2 separate regions of the Homo sapiens genome follow, and region 1 is linked to region 2. The links come from fine-mapping of genetic effects on gene expression. A gene starts in region 2. The other region holds a variant in brackets. All regions are shown on one strand. Distances are between the middles of the regions.

The links. PIP is the estimated chance that this variant, and not a neighbour inherited with it, causes the effect.
Region 1: its variant is the best candidate, but not a certain one, in a credible set for the expression of UNC79 in cerebellar hemisphere (GTEx, PIP 0.52).

The regions. Positions count from the first base shown.
Region 1 is chr14:93,476,468-93,481,467 of GRCh38, reverse strand. It overlaps UNC79 (unc-79 subunit of NALCN channel complex), which reads right to left. Exons shown (of 52, transcript NM_001395159.1): 4 at 3,740-3,910. Among named protein-coding and RNA genes, the nearest start is that of UNC79, 48 kb to the right of the region's middle. The variant C/A (reference allele first, on the strand shown) is at 2,656.
Region 2 is chr14:93,427,609-93,433,064 of GRCh38, reverse strand. UNC79 (unc-79 subunit of NALCN channel complex) reads right to left here and starts at 2,126. Exons shown (of 52, transcript NM_001395159.1): 1 at 2,014-2,126. The coding sequence starts at 2,035.

The sequences.
Region 1 (5,000 bases), 49 kb before region 2:
TTACAATAACATAGCCTGCATCAGTCAATGTTCACTTGGAATCAGCTCTTTCTCTTCTCTGCCAAAGCCATCATCTCCCAAATCTCCATATTTCAATTCAGTCCACAAATCACAGATCCTTTATTGGAAAAAGAGAGGTTTCCATGGTGACATGCAAATGACTTTCTCAATTCTTAGTAACTCCTTTAATATATTTTTTATAAACAAAGCATATTGAGCACATTTGGAATAAAGAGAAATATATTTTATTTATGGAAGGAGTTAAAAAGAAAAGCTATGTCAAAGGAAAATTTCACAATAAGTAAGTTGAAGTTTGCTCTGCAGAACCTTAAAAGGACTCATTCTAAAATAAAAGTCCAGCACTTGGTTTATTGACAAGGATGGTAAGGAGGAAATCTCTGATATACATGCTGGCCTCTTACTCTGAAGAGCTGCAATACCTCATTAGGTCCACTTCAAAGATCAGAACTTTATCTTCTAGGTCCTTAAGGATAGAATCATTTTATACCTGAAAAGCAGTTCATGTTTTCCATCTGACATTAGGAACACCACACCAAAAAGCCTTTTTGTCTTAAAGACTTTATCAAGTACTCAGGACATACAATATCCTTCATCCTAACATCTCAGTCCTGAAATAAAAATATTCTGCAAGAAGTTATGCGTTCTTGTCTTGTTTTGGTCACAATTTCTAGACACCAAAACAACTACCAAAAAAATAGAAAAAACATGAATACGACACACGGACACACATTCTCACATCAGTCCATTTTAACATGATTAATCTGAAACTATATCCTTCTGGTTTTGGATCTATGTCTTTGTATACTCATGAAATAACAAGTACAAAGGAAACACCTGAATGGTGTAATCGAATTTGGCTGTAAAGGTTGGTATTACAATTTATTTTCAAAGACTTAAAGATGACAAATATTGGCTATTATTGAACCACAGGAATGATTATGAGAAAGGAAAGTCAAAGCCAAAAGACTAAAACCAGAGCAACAAAATAAACACATGAAGTAGACCAACAACTAGGTTAGAGGACAATACGTGCCTCTTACATAAAATAATATTGATGTTACTTAAACTAGAATTAGTACGCCAGAAGTAATCTGCGAGACTGAACATTTTTTTCAAACCCCTTCTTTATAGTTAAAAAAAATGGGACCTTGGGAACATGAAGTGACTTGTTCATACCTTCAAATAAATGCCAAGTTACTCCTCTAATAAACATTAAAATATACACAAATTTTGTAAACTCAACTTACTGTTTTATTCTCCTCAGTTGCCAAGGTTTGTACATTTATGTAAGTAAGAATTCTAACGTGACTACATGGCATGTTTTGGGATCTGTGTTTCTAATTAAGTAGAAATTAATAATTAAGTGTAAAGAAACAAATTGTCAGCTATCACAATACTTGATCAATCTTAAATGTAACTTCAGAGGCCTGATATTTTCAACACCTCTCCCATAATTATTAACTTATTCCTAAGAAGGAGGGATTTAGTGAATTAGATTAATTGTTAGAAAGCTACAGCCTCCTCATTAATCCCACCATCGCCTCCCAGCACTTTGGAGCCTGAGGCAAGAGGATCACTTGAGGCTGGGAATTCCAGATCAGCCTGGGAAACATAGTGAGACCCCATCTCTACAAAAAAATTTTTTTAATTAGCTGGGCATGGTGGTAGAGGCCTTCACACCCTACTTGGGAGCCTAAGGCAAAAGGATCGCTTAAGCCGAGGAGTTTGAGGCTGCAGTGAGCTATGACTGTGCCACTGCACTCCAGCCCAGGCAACAGAATAAGACCCTATATCAAAAAAGAAAAGAAAAGAGAGAGAGAGAGAGAGGAAGGGAGGAAGGGAAGGAGGAAGCCAGGTGCAGTGGCTCACGCCTGTAATCCCAGCACTTTGGGAGGCTGAGGCGGGTGGATCACCTGAGGTCAGGAGTTTGAGACCAGCCTGGCCAACATGGCAAAACCCCATCTCTACTAAAAATACAAAAATTAGCTGGGCGTGGTGGCTGGTGCCTGTAGTCCCAGCTATTTGGGAGGCTGAGGCAGGAGAATCACTTGAACTCAGGAGGCAGAGGTTATAGTGAGCCAAAACTGCACCACTGCACTTCTGCCTGGGTGACAGAGTGTTACTTCATCTCAAAAAACTAAAGAAAGAAAGAAGGGACGAAGGGAGGAAGGGAAGAATGGAGGGAGGGAGAAAGGGAGGGAAGGAGGAAGGAAGGAAAGGAAGGAAGGAAGGAAGGAAGGAAGGAAGGAAGGAAGGAAGGAAGGAAGGAAGGAAACAGCCTCATCTGTTATGCTTCAAAAAACCAAAAATTCTTATGCCTAAGTTTAACAGTTAACATCACTTATTTTAAAGATATGACTATGCAATTCTAAAACGATATCAAGAAATGAGTACTTGTCAGTAAGAACAAAAGAAGAAAATGATCAAATATTGTATTACTTGAATGGTATGATCAGTCTGCTAATTTTTTTGAATTGCTATATAATTTAGGGAGAAGTCAAACTCTTTGCTGAAAGACATGAAAAGTACAATTCCATAGCTAACATTAAACTTGATTGTAAAAATAAGCAAATGTAGCTCAAAAGATATATATGGTTACCAATTGTTATTACAGAGCAACAACTTTAATAAGAT[C/A]GTAAGTACATAAAATTAAAATGTGAATAATGATCACTAGGAGTTGAATGTAACCAACGAAAGTATTTTTCTAAAACAATAGTTGAGAGAAGGCGAGAAGCAAGCTGACACTTATTGCATACCAGGCATTGTGCTAGCATTTTACCAATGTTCCAAGTTAACCATCTTAATTATCCCACAACTTCATGAGGCAGCTATTATTATTATTATTATTTTATAAGAAAGAAACAGAAAGTTGGGTAATTTGCCTAAAGTCATATAGCTAGTAGGTGGAAGAGCTGTGATTTGGATCCCAACGTTTGACTCCTAAATCCACAATCTTTTCGGATTTCCCACTGAAACATAGATTAATCCATAATCCATTTCTTTAAAAAATACTTGAAAATGATTTTGATCATAAAAACCACAATGCAATATTTTTTTCTCTTTGTGCGCATGTCTGGAAAGCCTGTAAGATTAAGTCTACAGAAATGAAACAGGATTCAAATCAGTTTTATGTTTATAATCATACATTGCACATGACTTGGAAGCTTTAGCTTTTTTCAGTGCTTTCATAAATTTCGAGTCACTTTATCATCACGATACCTCTATAAGGGAAAGCTGATGGATTCGTCACTCTGTAGATGATGTTTCAACTATGTGAGCTGCCCAGATTAGAGGCAGAGCTGGGACCAGAATTTACACATCCTGACTATCTAATGCTCTTTCTATTAGATCCTACTGCCTTCAAAGCCAAAAGATAGGAATTTCTGCATCTGAGACAATACTTTCCCCATCTTTTTTCTAAAGTGGTAAAAGATACTGTAACTTATACATAGGAAATCTAGACTGCCTTGATATGTTCTTTTTTTCTATTCTATAAGATCAAACAGTCTGAATAAAACAATTTTAAGCCCTAACGCCTTTCATTTCTTTGACTTTCGCCATAATATCCATGCTAAAGTGACTGAATTGAAATCATAGCTCCTGTATATATCAAGTGATTCCATTATAATCTCGAAAAACTAGAGCCTATAACAGCAAAAGCAATTTCCATTCATATCATACATAAAAATAATCTAGTATTAGGTAAGATTGGACTTACATATAGCCATTGGTAGAAAAGATGTGCTAAGATATTCAATGATATCCTTGTGCAGAAATGGAGGAAAGGTAGCCAACGTTGATATCATCGTGTAGGGCAAAGTACTCAGAATATCATCATTGAGAAAAGGTAGCAAACATGTAGTTGTATAAAATATCGACTGTCCAAGATCTACAAAACAAAATTGAGTAATCAGTCACTGAATATTTTGCAATTAACAAAATAGGCTAACTTTACATTTTAAGCTTTAATGAACTGGTTTAAGTTATAAGCAACTAGTGCTCCATCTCTATTAAGTGTTATGAAACATAATGTTTGATAGGGTACTATTTATACAGTAATTGGTCAATAAATGACTGATGAATGAATATGTTAAGAAATATAAATATCCATTACATGCATTTTTCCTCCACACTTTCTCAATCTTCAATAATACTTGGTATTTGTATTACTACATTCTACACAAGATAACTGAGGCACAAGAAGTTAGATGATTTGCCCAATGGAAGTTTTAGAAAAGTCAAGGGCAGTATCAGAAATAAAACCGGGCTATTTCTGCTCCATCAATCAAACCATCTGGAGTGTCGGGCAATGAGGTAATTTGCAACCTTCAGCCGAGCAGCAATTTCAGCAAGCACCAAACAAGGGAAGCCGTAAGCTGGTGCTACATGACCATGTGCATTGAGTCATCAATGATCATGGGAGGAAGTGCTACCTAATAATAATCTTTCTAACAACATCTTTAAACAGGGATCATAACAATACCTACCTCACTTCATTAGAAGGATTGTTAGGAGGTTTTAATGAGATAAATGTAAAGTCCTTAGCATAGCACATACTGTGTGCTCCACAAATATTAGCTGTTATTACTAATATTAACAGTTACTATTATTATTACCTGCACAAGAATAAAAATAAAGGAGATGCAACAAAACCATAACTATTTAGCTTTAGAATGCATGTAGGCCAAATCCCATTACACTAAATGTACATTTGTATATTCCTGGACTTCCCAAAATATAGGCCATCAGCCAAGGTTTGATGATGAAGACTTGGATCACTTTTGTATTCATTATAACAGAAAAGTACTAGACTCTTCTTTGTTTTGCAGCAGATGAACCTTCTTTGGATTCCTAATGTTATTTCTGATTGTCGTTAGAATTAATATGCCATCTTAACAGGCACATCAGCTAACAACAGAAAGGATGTGGCCACAGTGCACACTAGAGGGCCAGAGTCAGTCAACCTTGAGCTCAAATGA
Region 2 (5,456 bases):
CTTTTCATCCTCTACAGATGAAAAAAATCTGTTTCACTAACACGTCTAAAATAGCTACTTAAGTCCACTAATTGCTCTACAGAATCAAGTCCATAGATAGATTTTATTCATTGCCCAGGAAAGAGACAAGACAAAGCATCCAGTCCATTTCAAAATGTAACAAGGAAGAGAAAACACAGGAAGAGGACAGTAATACTCACTGGCTTTAGCCTGAAATTACTTACGTAATATGTAACTACACAATCAAATGACAGGTGGTGTTTTTTCCTTTAAAAACCATACTATAATAAAACCACTTGGCTTTATTATAATATCAGGATGTGATATTCTCAAGTGGGAGGTTCTACATGGACTCAAACTATGTTACCATTCCTCAAAACAGAATGCACCCAATTTTTTTCAAAAACCTCTGTAAAAGCAAAACTTAATTTTGAATGTAGATTTAACTTTCAGAAACATGCAAAAAAAATCACAAGAGAGCTTCCTAACTATTTAGAGGAGATGGACTATTTAAAAGTGGGCAATGCTTGTCATTATCATAGCCATCATTTATTGAGTACATTCTATGTGCTAGGCTCATTACTAAACCTTTTATATGTATTCTCTCATTCCCCACAACAACCCCATCAGCATGATTAGCCCAGGTTTACAGATGAGGAAATAAAGTTCAGAGAGGTCAATTATCTTGCCCAAGGTCAAACAGTAGCAAAACTAAGATTGAAACTCAGATCTTCCGGATTCCAAAAAAACATAAAGAAGTAAAAGCACTGGGTGGTAGGTGGGCATGCACAATTTCTAATGAACCATCAATCTGAGAATTCTATAAGCCTTCAGTTTATTTAATTTATCTGGTGAATAAATGACATACTGCATTTTATCATATATAAGATATTGCCCTCAAATAATGAGACTACTGTTTTGTGTGTCTCAAAAACCGGCTTTAGTAGCCATTCCAAAGAAGAATTACAAAGACTTTTAAGTAGTGACAGCATTATCCATATAACGTGTACTGCTTTGGAAGAAAGGAGTCAATCTAGGTGAATAAGTTCTGGTATATTGTTAAAAATTCAAACTTACTGCTTAATAAAAACGTCTTTTATTTACAATCTGAAGTTTAAGCTCCTGAATCCCTCAAGCCCTCAAGTGTACTCGGAAAAAGGCTTCACATTGATCAACCTACCAAGCACACACCGAAGGCCTACTAGTGCGCACTGCAATAAGACAGACTATGGGAACCATATTAGAAACTTACTCCATCCACAAGGAGTTAGCAGGTTGCTTCCAACCACGCACACAGTCAGTCATTACTGGGACAACCAAAATCCTCCGGTGCTATGGGCTGCCCTACAAAGGAAGCCTGCTCTTTGGAACAATAATTAGATCAATTAGGTCATTTTCCCAGAGCTCCTTTCACTTTCTTGTAAGCACCGCATGGTTGTGGTTGGTTTTGACATTGGTGTTGGCATTAGTGAGTTAATTTTCCTCTTGCCTGGCTCCCTGCTCCCTCCCCCTTCTCTCCCTTCTTGCCTCTTCCACCCGAAGTGGAAACTGCAGACTCAAACTCCCCTATGGCTCCAGCACCAAGAACTGGGCATGCTCAGAAGGCCAGGCAGGCTTTGGTTGCAACTGACAGTTCCCCGCCCCTGATTTGCCGCTACCCCCCTTCCCCCACTCCAACAAGAGATACTGAAATGTTTATCTGAAAGATACGAGGCCTCTTTTTCCCGAGAATGACCCCATTTTAATTTCATTTCGCAGGGTCTCTGAGTCTTGAGAAACCCCCGCTGGAGCCCGAGGAAGACCGTATTATTTTTCAGCACCGGGGACAGCGCCGCGCTGCCATTAACGTCCACCCTCCCCCACCTTCTCTCTCCGCCACCCCCCACCCGCCCCAACCTCAGCCCCCACCCCCGCACCAGCACAATGCCAAGGTCTCCCAGCAGCCGCAAACGCCGCAGCTGCAATAGCTCCCAGCCGAGGCCGGGCCGGAATGCCGGGCCGGCTGCTACTTACACTGCTCCGCTTTGGTGGACATGGTGCTGTCCAGTTGGAAAGGCTTTGCCCCAAAATCTGTGTCGTGTGAGCTCCCTCGCTCCGCCAGCGATGTTGCGAGGAAAAGAGTGCATACCCCCCACCCCCCACCCCCTCGCTTTCCCCCTCCCTTAGGCCCGTGTCGCTACCATTCGGACAAAACGCACATCAAATTGCAGAATTCGGTCCCGGAAGGTTAGGAAATCGCCCCCGGAGAAATGGGTGGGATTTAATAGGCGGCCAAAGGCTTCCTGTCCGTCCCCTCCTGGAGCTGCCCGCGTTGATGTGGGCGGGGAGACCGAAAGGAGAGAGCAGGCTGCGGCTCCTGGTGAAATGGGAAAATGGGCTCGACCGGGGGAGGAGTATTTCCATTCATAAGGCGCACGGAGGGGACGGGTGTTTCCCAGAGAAAAGCCTCTTAAAGCGCCGGAGTCCCCGACCATTTGGATCTCCCATTGGCGTTCTCCGGGCCTGTAAATCCTGCTCCCGGAGCAGCCCCCGGAGCCTCAGCAGGGTGACCAGAGAGGGACCCAGGTGCGTCCCACGCTTCGTCTCAACCTCGGGGAGGAAGGAGAGGGAGGCGGATCCGGGGCGGGCTGGAGCGCCGGGGCCGGAGGGCGCGAGGATGTTCCTGAGGACCGCGAGGAAGAAAATGCAGGAGGAACCCTCAGCATGGCTTCCCTGTGCGCTGCGGTCCCTGCCCTCGCCTCCCCTCTGCGATGGGCTCTCCTGCTGATGATTGGGGATGGGAGGTCCCACTGCCAGGGGGCTGTGACAAGACTTTAGAAGTTGGGGCTGAAGGAAGGAGGAGATGTCCACGGATGGTGAAGCTGGAAGGGCCACAGAAAAGGAAGATGAAAGACTGAAGACAGGAAGACCCCAGGTGTGCTCCCTTGCAGCCATCCCAGCTGGACAGGGACACATTAGGAAGCCCCTCGACTGGAAAACCGAAGGCAGCGGGAAAGGAAGGCAATAGACGAGGGCATCGTGCATATTAATAGGAAGATATCCAAAGAATCCACTACAGAATGGAGAGACACTTGGAGTCGGGAAGAACCAGATTCAAGACCCACTTTTACCACTTACTCACTCAAGGACCATCTTCTAATCTCCCTACACCTCCGGTTCTTTATCTGTAAAATGGGAACATTAAAACCTTGCCCTGTCACCTGAAGAGTTACTGGGCAGATCGAATGGATGCGCAAGTCCTTGTAAACTAAAAGTACGGCACAATCCCCAACCATTATGTCCATTCTTCATTCAAATAGTTTAATTTGTTAAAGCTGAGGGGCATGGTCATAGCAGGTTAATTTAGTAAAAGTTACAGGAACAAAACGGTAAGTGTTGACAATGACTTTTAATGCTGATAAATCAATGTTTTCCACCTCAGAGAATAAAAGATCCTATTTAGGGAAAGAATTTTAAATTCTGTGTAATATATCAAACTATTCAGGTGAAATCTTGGACAATTAAGAAAAATATTATGAACAAACATCAAGGAAAGATGCTTCTGAGTAGCAAATAAAAAAATCTACAAATAACAGGGAAACTGCCCATAATGATGCACACACAGCACTCAAGTTTCATGGTATTTGCAAAAATGTTCATAAAGGGTTAGTGAATTGGCTCTTTGGGTTGCATATGTGATTGGACTCTGACATCCTGCTGATTGGCAGGTTGCTCTGGCTAATCAGCTATCATTCCATGTCATTGTTCATTCCCAAAACCACATCCCAAAGAGAAGTTCCATTTATTAGTAAAAGATAAATGATTATGTGAAGCATGATGCCAAAGAGTTCGTTCTGAGTAAAAAGAAATTGGAATCATTCTAAAGAAAATATGAATATAATGAACATTCCTGAGAAGATGACAAACACTTTGTATGACTAAAAGAAAGCTCAATGGGTTATTCAGAAAATTCTTGGAAGCCTGAGGCTTTGATAAAGAAAACAGTAATTGGAAATTAACACACATGAAAAAGAGGTGTCTTGGATAATACAGAAACAAAGGACAAAGTATGTGTTGGAAACCTATTATCCCTTTATCTGCTTAACAATCTTTCATTTGTCATCAATTAACCCTCCCGTTACTGAGTTAAGGGAGAGTATAATGGTGTTAAGTCATGGACTGAGGAGTTAGACAGCCTGGGTTTGAATTCCAGCTTTGCCTCTCATGATCTGTGTAACCTGGTGCAAGTTACTTAACTTCTCCATGCCTCGACTGCCTTACCTGAAAAATGGTCATATCATAGTCACATTAAAGGTTGTCAGGAATAAATAAGTATATATATGAGAATCTAGAACAATGACACATATGAGTGATGGCTGCTATTAGCATTACTGCTGAAACTCCTCAAATGCACCCAATCCATTCAGGTTAGTTCTGATGCTTCGGAGCCTCCAAAGCCTGATAGCACCCATATAATTGAGACTCTAATCATCAACCTAGGCACTCACAGCTTGAGCCTTCTGACATGCCCATTAACTCACTAACCTGGGCCATATCCATTACTCAGTTTCACCATTCCGACATATGGCCTTACTACTTCAATGAACTCCCTCACCTTTCCTTCTGTCTCCACCTATCTCAATCCTTCCTGCTTAGTTTTCTTCTATTGCAGAGGTAGTGCCTCTTCTCATTGCCAGATGCAATGCCTTTTTTTCCAAACCTATGCCTCTAATTATAAACATTTCTACTTATTCTAGAATTTGCTATTTTAATTATCTTCTTTTTCCCAGCATTTTAAGTCTCATCTTTTCAATGGATTTTCCCATCCTGCTTGCAAACATGCATAAATTTTTCATCCTCAAAAAGCTGTGCCTATCATCTTACTGAATAAGTGGCCTCCATTTCTCCATTTCCTCACTACCCTACCTGCTATCAAATTGTGGCTGAAACAGGTTACTTCAATAGTCACTAATAATTTCCTAATAGTAAATTATAATTGCTTTATCTCTTGGTGACTAATGCCAGCATTTGAAATTTCTCCCTATTTCTTTTTGAAATTCCCTCTTCCCTTGACTTCTATAACATAATGCTCTTCAAAGTCTTCTCCAAACTTTTTGCCCATTCTATTGTTTAATGAAGTAATTCAAACATAGAAATATTTTAAAAATCATGAACACTAATGTTACCACTACCCAGTCTCATCAAATCTTAATATTTTGTCATGTTGCATTGTTTTACTTTTCAGAAAAAAACATTTTAGAGACATTAGAAGCCCCCATAAAAAATTATTCTAAATTTGTGGTTATGTCCTTATATTTTATATTATTTATTTATTTGTTCAGCAACTACTTATTGAGTGCCTATGTATGTCAAACACTGCTCTAGGAACTTGTTATAATGTAGCAAACAGAGAAGACAAAAAAAAAAATCTGCTTCTTAAAACTAATATTCTAGTGGAAAGACAAAAAATAAGTAAG